Regions from separate parts of the Homo sapiens genome. Here all the other regions are linked to region 1. Evidence: fine-mapped expression QTL. A gene starts in region 1. Each other region holds a variant in brackets. All regions are shown on one strand. Distances are between the middles of the regions.

Region 1 (2,669 bases):
TGCCCTAAGCTGCACCAGCGCTTTGCCAAGATGGGATGGGGAGGGGGTATGAGAACTGGCAGAGCCTCGGTGCAGCAGGGCTGAAGGGCTTTCTCACCCCAGCTCTGGCTATGCCCAGTTCTCTGAGAAAGGAGCTCAGTGGGGAGGTGGTCCCTCCAGCGGACCAGGGAAGGGGTCACCGTGCTGGGAGCAGCCTCCTTGGGCCTCAGGAAACCACCAAGTGCCTCGGATGGTGGCTGCCCACGGCGCTTCTGCTGAGACCCTGCCCCCGGCCCAGGTGTCTCGGAGGGTGGCTGCCCACGGCCTGGGTGTGGCTGGAATGGTGGCAGGAGTGGGCACCAGTGCGGCCCCGGTGGCCATGGGGAATAAACCAGCATTGCTGCCTCCGGCCTCCGCCGTTTTTCTGTTTCGTAAACCAGCATCCCGGGGTTCCTGCTCTGAGTGACCCTGGCACCTGTCAGGGAGTCCAGGTGTGCCCCATGAGGGCCTGGGGGAGGGGCAGGCTGGGCAGAGCCACAGAGGGGCTCCCCTCAAACCCCACATTGGCTCAGGTGGGACCCTCAGGAGCAACCCCAGGTCTAAAGTCTTCCCATGGGCGCTGGGCTCACCACCCCCACGCCAGCCCCTGCCTCCCGTACCCAGGCCGGACGTGACGGGGCCGTCCCTGCATTCTGTGCTTTCCCAGTTGTACACATCCTGTCCCCTCCCTCGAGTCTCAGTCACAGTTCAGTGACCTGGTGACGGGAGGCCCCCTGCAGTGTCTGACCCAGGCCACGCCTGTGCCAGCCCAGAGCCAGGGGGAGGAAATGGGGGCTGGGCCTCTGGTCCCCATGGGGAGGCCACCCTTGTCCTTGGTAGCATCAGGGTGCAGAGGTGTTCCCGGGCTGTAGGGGTGACTCCCCCACCCCCCAAGGCTCTGGAGAGGCCGATTTGCTCAGGAAGCCGACCTTCACACCTTGTCCTGCTATTAATAGACGCCTGGTTGACACGGGACCCTCGGTTGGGTCCGGAGCATTGGGCAGGGGCACTTGTCAGTGTTTGAGAGCTGAAGTTTGGGAAGCCCTGGGGAAGCGCAGGAACTCCCCGCCTGGGCTGGGGCTGCCGGGCAGGGCCCCTCCTATGCCTCGGCGTGGCTAGAGAGGGCGGGGGCAGAAGGCTCCGGGACAGCCCTGCACCCTACAGATGCGGGTCTCCGCCCAGCCGCGGTCACCTGGGGGGCTGGGGGCGGGGCCTGGGCGGGGCGGGGTTCGGCCGGGAGCGCAGGGGCGGCAGTGCGCGCCTAGCAGTGTCCCAGCCGGGTTCGTGTCGCCATGGGGCAGATCGAGTGGGCCATGTGGGCCAACGAACAGGCGCTGGCGTCCGGCCTGAGTGAGTGCACGTCAGGGACGGTGGAGGCTGCAGCCTGGAGGGGTGTCCCAAGACCCCAGCCGGGACCTCGGGCTACTTACAGGGTGGGGAAGTGGGGCGCCAGGCGGGCCAGGCCGGGCCGGGGTCAGGCCAGGAGGGTGCGGGGAACGGGGGCGGGACCCTCAGGCCGCGGGCTGGAAGGAGGAGTTCTGAGACCCCCAGTAATTCCCTTGCAGACCCTGCGGAGCGCGGCGCCCCTCCCCCATTCCCTTCTCTCGGTCCCCCGACTCCGCGAAGGAGGAAGTTGCAGCGCAGGGGAAGAGGCGGTTCAGCCCCGGTGGTTTCCGGGGTCACCGCCCCGAAGCCCCCGAGTGGGGGCTCCGGCCTGGGCATCGGGAGAAGCTCCCCTGCCCCTCGGTAGCCAGCTGGCCTGGAGGTCGCTCTCCCTGGGCTTGGGGTGGGGAATGGGCTCATGCCCTGGGGCTCAGCCCTTCTCATCTGGAGTCTGCGCTGGAGGCGGTCTGAGATTTCACAAGGCGCCGAAACCACCCAGTGACGGCCCTGCCCAGCCCAGCTGCACAGGCACTTTGCTCTTGGGGTGGGATGGCACAGCCCCCAGTCACCCTCCTGTGCATTTGCTCAGAGGTTCTGGTGAGGGCAGCGGACTCCATTTGGAAATGGACCCTCTCGGGACCAGGGCCAGGGAGTGTCTGGCCCAGCACGGGTGAGGCTGGGCTCAGGCGAGGTCTGAGGGCAGAGGCACCACTGCAGCAGCTCCAGGAAGGACCTGCACCGGGGGAGGAGTGCCTGGGAAGGGCCTGGGGGCTGAGGGTGAGGAGGAGGGGCCCGCTGCCACCACTCCCCTGGGGCTCTGAGCGCCCTCCCTGTTGTCTGGAGGGTGCGTGGCAGCTGGAGTGGGAGCAGAGACCTCAGGGTGGGAGGGCTGGAGGACGGGGCCCTGCAGCCTGTCCTGTGCCCAGGAAAGTGACCGCCTGCTTCGAGTCAGCGGCCAAGAAGTCGGTGGGTCAGTTCAGACAGCTCTCCCCAGAGCTGCCCCGTGAGACTCACCCTGCCTGCCCCGCACTCCCTACAGGAAGTAGACGGACTGAGGGCACCCAGCTGGGAGCCAGGAGACCTGGGCTCTAGTCTGGCCTCCTGCTGAAACCCTCCAGGGGCTCCTGGCCCGAAGAGTTAGAGCCAGACTGGACGCCCTGCACTGCCCGCCCTGGCCTCCCGGCTCTCCGGCCCCCTCCTCCAGCTGCCGTGCTTCCTTTCTGTTCCTAGATCTCCTGAGCGTGCCCCAGGGCCTCGGCACAAGCTGC
Region 2 (2,795 bases), 35 kb after region 1:
TCTACAGATGCATTTGATAGAATTGATTGAAAGGTTCTGCTCTAATCATTTTAAAACAGCCCAGGTGGAGGAGTGGGTAAGCCTCAAAAGGCAAACTAGGACGGAGAGAGCGGCACAACTCCGTCTCCAGCCGCAGGTCCAGGGGGGAGCTGGTCAAGAAGCCCTGCCAGAGATACCGATGGGGATGAGATCCCGACGGGGACAAGCTAGCCAGTAACTCCCAGAGCCAAACAGCTTAGGCAGTAAGAGAGAACCTCAGGAAAGAGGGGTATTAGCTTAGAGATAAGGAAAAGAAATGGCTCCCCCATGGACAGAGGGCTGGCCATCAGATAGCTCAGGGCAGTGTTTCCTATTGGGGCTCAGCATTATCCTTCCCGGGGGAGGCCCTCAACTCTACCCAGGACACCCATGGCACCCAAACAGTGGCCGACTCTCGCTCCTCCCGCTGCACGACTGTGCCCCCTCTCGTGAAGCTTGGGGTGGTGAAGTGCCTGCTATAACGAGCCTGGGCCGCGCTTCAGACCAAACAAAAGTGACTGCGCTTCACTAGGGTGTAGCCCCCATGCAAGGCCTAGCCCTGGTGCAGCCGTGCTGGACACTGCAGAGCCCCTCATTCGTGTTCTGCTTGGTAGCTGAAGGCAGAATCTTCCCAAATGGATCTCCCTGGGTAAAACTGTGTCATTTTCTTCCAGTTTAGGTGAGAAAAGTTCTTTCTATCCACCTAATGATTACAAACTCCCAACCTGCCAAAGACCCACCCATTCAATACGTGTATTACTGCAAAGGGAATTCAGCTGCTCCTGAAAAGGCAGCCAGGCCAGTTCTGGCTGATAAGGGAGAAGGAAGCAGGAGCACTGGCTGGAAATTCTGCGCTGGGGAAACCCTTGTCCTCCAGGCAGGTAGCGGGCCTGGCAGGGCTCCCGCAAAGGTGAGTGAAGCCAAGACCGGGGACTCCCCAGCACCCGGAAGCCGGCTGAATGAATCCAGGCAAGCGACGCAGAGAACGTCAGCCCTGCTGCTGGCAGCTCCGAGAAGGGGCTGAGGGCAGCCCCAGGAGCACAAGCAAGTGCTTCAGGAAGGAAAGAAAGGGACGTGAGCCTCGCAGAAGGGAAATGAACCAGGTCAGAAACAGGTGGGAAGAGCGGCTCGGCCCAGTTTGGTGAGAGCAGCTGTGTTTGATTTTAAGAAAAACTCATTTAGTACAGAGTTTCCTGAACCCTAGCTGTGAGCCCAGATCAGGCCAGACAAC[G/A]TCTGAGCACCTCCCAGTCCCTTCCTGAATGTAAGACTCCTCTGTGAAGCTGAGGGCTCAGGGGCTGGCGATGGCAACCTGCTGCCTGGTGGCCATGCTGGCAGAGTTACCCTCTCCAAGCCTCCTGGGATCCGTCACCCGCTTTCCTCTGGGGAGGCTGAGCACACAGGAGACGGGCACAGCAGTCGGGAATCTGCCCTCCCATTCCGCGGGTCACTAAAGTGCGGGCCACAGCAGAGGAACACAGCAACCTTAGGCATGGCGGCCCTCTAACGCGTACTCCAGAAGTACATTCTTGTACACAGAAAACATCCCTGAGTTGGAATTACAGACTCCTGACTGGGAAGAGCCCCCGGCTGCTTAGAAACAGGCAGAATACATGACTAGGGGCTGGGGAAGGGGGTCTGTGGCCAGGCACGTGTGCCCATAAGCCACCAAAGTGGACATGCTGACGGACTCATAAACCCAGAGCCACACAGCACAGTGACCTTCCACGTGGATATCACTGCCTTTCTATGTCTCTGCTTCTAAAACCAATGATCTGGGTGGCGTGAAAACCCCTATTTTGTGAATCTGGAAAGCAGACTCAGCTGGTTCTGTTTGTAGAAATCAATGTGCAATTTTAGCAACCCTGTAACAATCAATTATGACATGCAGGTAAAAATGCAGGCTGATACCAAATCCAAAACTCACGGACAGCACCCCCAAATGTGGGTAAGCACCAACCTGTGCGGGACTCTGGGACAGGCACAGAGGCTGCAACGGGGAGCAGGGCAGACGGTGGTGCCCCAGGACCATCTGCTGCAAGGGCTCCAGATGGGCACTGAGGGCCATGAGGAACAAGAAAGCAGGCTGGCAAGCAGGAGGGGATGGGGAGACTTCCCTGTGCAGAGGAATCTGAGCAAAACCCTGGAGGAGGTAGAGGCAGCCCGTCCGGGCAGAGGGAACGGAGGAGGTGGGGGCAGCCTGTCAAAGGCAGAGGGAACGGAGGAGGTGGGGGCAGCCTGTCAAAGGCAGAGGGAATGGAGGAGGTGGGGGCAGCCCGTCCAGGCAGAGGGAACGGAGCAGGTGGGGGCAGCCCGTCCAGGCAGAGGGAACGGAGCAGGTGGGGGCAGCCCGTCCAGGCAGAGGGAACGGAGCAGGTGGGGGCAGCCTGTCAAACGCAGAGGGAATGGAGGAGGTGGGGGCAGCCCATCTGGGCAGAGGGAACAGGAGGTGGGGCAGCCCGTCCAGGCAGACGGAATGGAGGAAATGGGGGCAGCCCATCTGGGCAGAGGGAGCGGCTGGGGGTGTGTGCACGGGGTGCTGGGCTGCACCTTTGCAGTGGGGTCTCAGGGGAGAAGGCAGCCTTAGGCTGAGTGCACACTGAAAATACTGTGTGTGCTGTAGGGGAAGGGCTTCTATCCAAAAGGGCTTGAAAGGCTGAAGAAGGCGGCACAATGTCAAGGTCAATGACGGTTTCCCCGTTTGGATGACCATGTAAACTTCAAAATAACTTAGAGATTACTGTAACATAAAAGGATTAAAAACATCTGAAATATGTCAC
Region 3 (2,795 bases), 55 kb after region 1:
CTACTTGGGAGGCTGAAGCAGGAGAATGGCGTGAACCCAGGAGGTGGAGCTTGCAGTGAGCCGAGATCGTGCCACTGCACTCCAGCCTGGGCAACAGAGCGAGTCTCTCTCAAAAACAACAACAAAAAACAAAAGAGGTTGGGAAATGTTATTCTATAGGGGGTTCAAAAATCCAGAGCCTCAGAGAGATTTAAAGAAAAACTGACTATGCAGTCATCCATCTGAGACTCAACACACTACAGAGCTCTTCATGGTTTGCCTCTGAAAATACTCATGCAGTATTCAAAATCACGTGTGTAACTAAACAAGTAACAAAAGCTCATTGTAAAAAATGTCCAAGTACAGAAAAGTGCTGACAATAGAAACCACAGCTTTTCTGTACTCCTTTTCCTTTTTTTTTCAGATGGAGTCTCACTCTGACTGAGTGAGACAGTCCCAGGCTGGAGTGCAATGATGCAATCTCGGCTCACTGCAACCTCCACCTCCTGGGTGTCAGTGATTCTCCTGCCTCAGCCTCCTGAGTAGCTGGGATTACAGGCGGGTACCACCATGCCAGGCTAATTTTTGTATTTTTAGTAGAGACGGGACTTCACCAACTTGGTCAGGCTGGTCTCGAACTCCTGACCTTGTGATCTGCCAGCCTCGGCCTCCCAAAGTGCTGGGATTACAGGCGTGAACCACCACACTCGGCCTCTGTACTTCTTTTTCATCTAAAATATGTATCTGGGTGGTGGCTAAATGTTATCGTTCTTTTCTGTATTTATGAAAATTTTTAGGACATCACCTACGAACCTACTATCAAAAAAGATCCTTTCTCACTGATATTGGCATGGGGAGAAAAGAGGAACAAGGCAGAAGAGAACAAACCAGTGAGCGCCAAAGAGCAAGCTGAGAAGGCGAGCGTGGGGCTGCCACTAGAGACCAGACACTAGTGGGTGACAGTGTTCAGCTCTCGGGAGCCACCTGCCCGGGGGTGCTGAGCGCTGTCCTGCCCCTGGCCAGAGTAAAGGGGAAGATGGCTCTGGAAAGCAGCACAGTTGGTCTGCACGTCTAGCTGGGACACACTTCCAGCAGACGTCAGGCAGAAAGAACACCATTGTCCCATCTATCTTTTTAAAATGTGAACTTTTATCTGTGTAGGAACACACCCAACTGTCGGGAATGTGGGAAGGGGCTTTAGATTTTATTTTCTTGCCTTCTGCCAGCCCATATTACTTTCTTTCCTTTTTTTAATTTTTTTTTTTTTGAGATGGAGTCTCGCTCTGTTGCCCAGGCTGGAGTGCAGTGGAGCGACCTAGGCTCATTGCAACCTCTGCCTCACAGTTCAAGCAACTCTCCTGCCTCAGCCTCCCGAGTAGCTGGGATTACAGGTGTGCACCACCAAGCCCGGCTAATTTTTGTATTTTTAGTAGTGACAGGGTTTCGCCATGTTAGCCAGGCTGGTCTCAAACTCCTGAAGTCAGGTGATCCGCCCACCTCGGCCTCCCAAAGAGCTGGGATTACAGGTGTCAGCTACCGTCCCCAGCCTTACTTTCATAATTTAAAAAGCAATTTGTTAAAAAAAAAAAAAA[A/G]AAAAAGAAAGAAAGAAATTATCCAGAAAATAGAAGCAACAATAAAGATCTTCTGGTTTACAAATGGGACTTCAAACCCAAAATTTATGTGGATTGTGATTCTAACAGTATAAAGATAGTTCTGCGGATACTGTGTACACAGACATGGCCTCAGGCCAGAAGAGGACAAGGAGGGACAGAGGCCGCTGGAGCGGGGCGGAGGCGGCCCCTCCACTGCTGAAATGTCTAAGTACTATTTCTGGCTTCAAGACAGGATGATGGTCTTTTTCTTAACTGGAATGTCGGCACAGCAGCAACTGGTTTTTCTTTTGTTTTGTTTTTGTTTTTTTGAGATGGAGTTTTGTTCTTGTTGCCCAGGCTGGAGTGCAATGGCACAATCTCAGCTCACTGCAACCTCCGCCTCCCAGGTTCAAGTGATTCTCCTGCCTCAGCCTCCCGAGTAGCTGGAATTACAGGCATGCACCACCACGCCTGGCTAATTTTGTATTTTTAGTAGAAACGAGGTTTCTCCATGTTGGTCAGGCTAGTCTTGAGCTTGCGACCTCAGGTGATCCGCCCGCCTCGGCCTCCCAAAGTGCTGGGATTACAGGCATGAACCACCACGCCCAGCCAACTGTTTTATTCTCTTATTAATCTTTACGCTTGTGTAAACACTGTATTATTTTATATATATGAAATATTTCATAATCAAATGAAATACTTGTAAATAAAAAATACCCACCCACTCTAAAAGGTACACTGTGAAGTTGACCACCTATCCCATGCCTCCAGGGCCATTCCCAGAGGCAGTTATCAATATACTGGGGCTCCATCCATCAATCATTGCCCCCTTTTACCTGAGCATATATATTATGCTCTGTGCTGAACCTTGCTTTTTTTCACTAAACAATGTAACTACAGAAAGGGAACCTGCATGCTCAGTAGCAACCAACCCAAACTGGATCAGGGAAACAGACAGGAAACAGATAGGAAACATGGAAAATCCGGAAACTAAACACAGAGGTGGCAGGAACTGAGGCTCAGCTCATGCTCCAGCACAGCCCACACATGAAGTATCTTTAAATGTCTCTTCTGATTTTGAATACAGTAAATATCAATTCCCTGTGTTTACTTGGTTTATATGTGTCATTTCTATTGATACGTACGATATTAGAAATTAAGAGACACTTAAAGATATCTCATTATTTAACAATAACAAGATATCCAATATATAGTAACAAATAT

What was found. PIP is the estimated chance that this variant, and not a neighbour inherited with it, causes the effect.
Region 2: its variant is the best candidate, but not a certain one, in a credible set for the expression of CYBA in pancreas (GTEx, PIP 0.69).
Region 3: its variant is the best candidate, but not a certain one, in a credible set for the expression of CYBA in whole blood (INTERVAL, PIP 0.88).

The regions. Positions count from the first base shown.
Region 1 is chr16:88,649,655-88,652,323 of GRCh38, reverse strand. It overlaps CYBA (cytochrome b-245 alpha chain), which reads left to right and starts at 1,271. Exons shown (of 6, transcript NM_000101.4): 1 at 1,271-1,368. The coding sequence starts at 1,311. MVD (mevalonate diphosphate decarboxylase) reads left to right here. Exons shown (of 10, transcript NM_002461.3): 10 at 1-384. RefSeq lists enhancers at 672-821, 249-1,143, 1,144-2,037, 2,038-2,669 and silencers at 1,082-1,361, 1,512-1,661.
Region 2 is chr16:88,614,637-88,617,431 of GRCh38, reverse strand. All of the region lies in intron 8 of ZC3H18 (zinc finger CCCH-type containing 18), which reads right to left. Among named protein-coding and RNA genes, the nearest start is that of IL17C, 23 kb to the left of the region's middle. The variant G/A (reference allele first, on the strand shown) is at 1,250.
Region 3 is chr16:88,594,257-88,597,051 of GRCh38, reverse strand. The region is part of intron 3 of ZC3H18 (zinc finger CCCH-type containing 18); the gene reads right to left. Among named protein-coding and RNA genes, the nearest start is that of ZC3H18, 25 kb to the right of the region's middle. The variant A/G (reference allele first, on the strand shown) is at 1,572.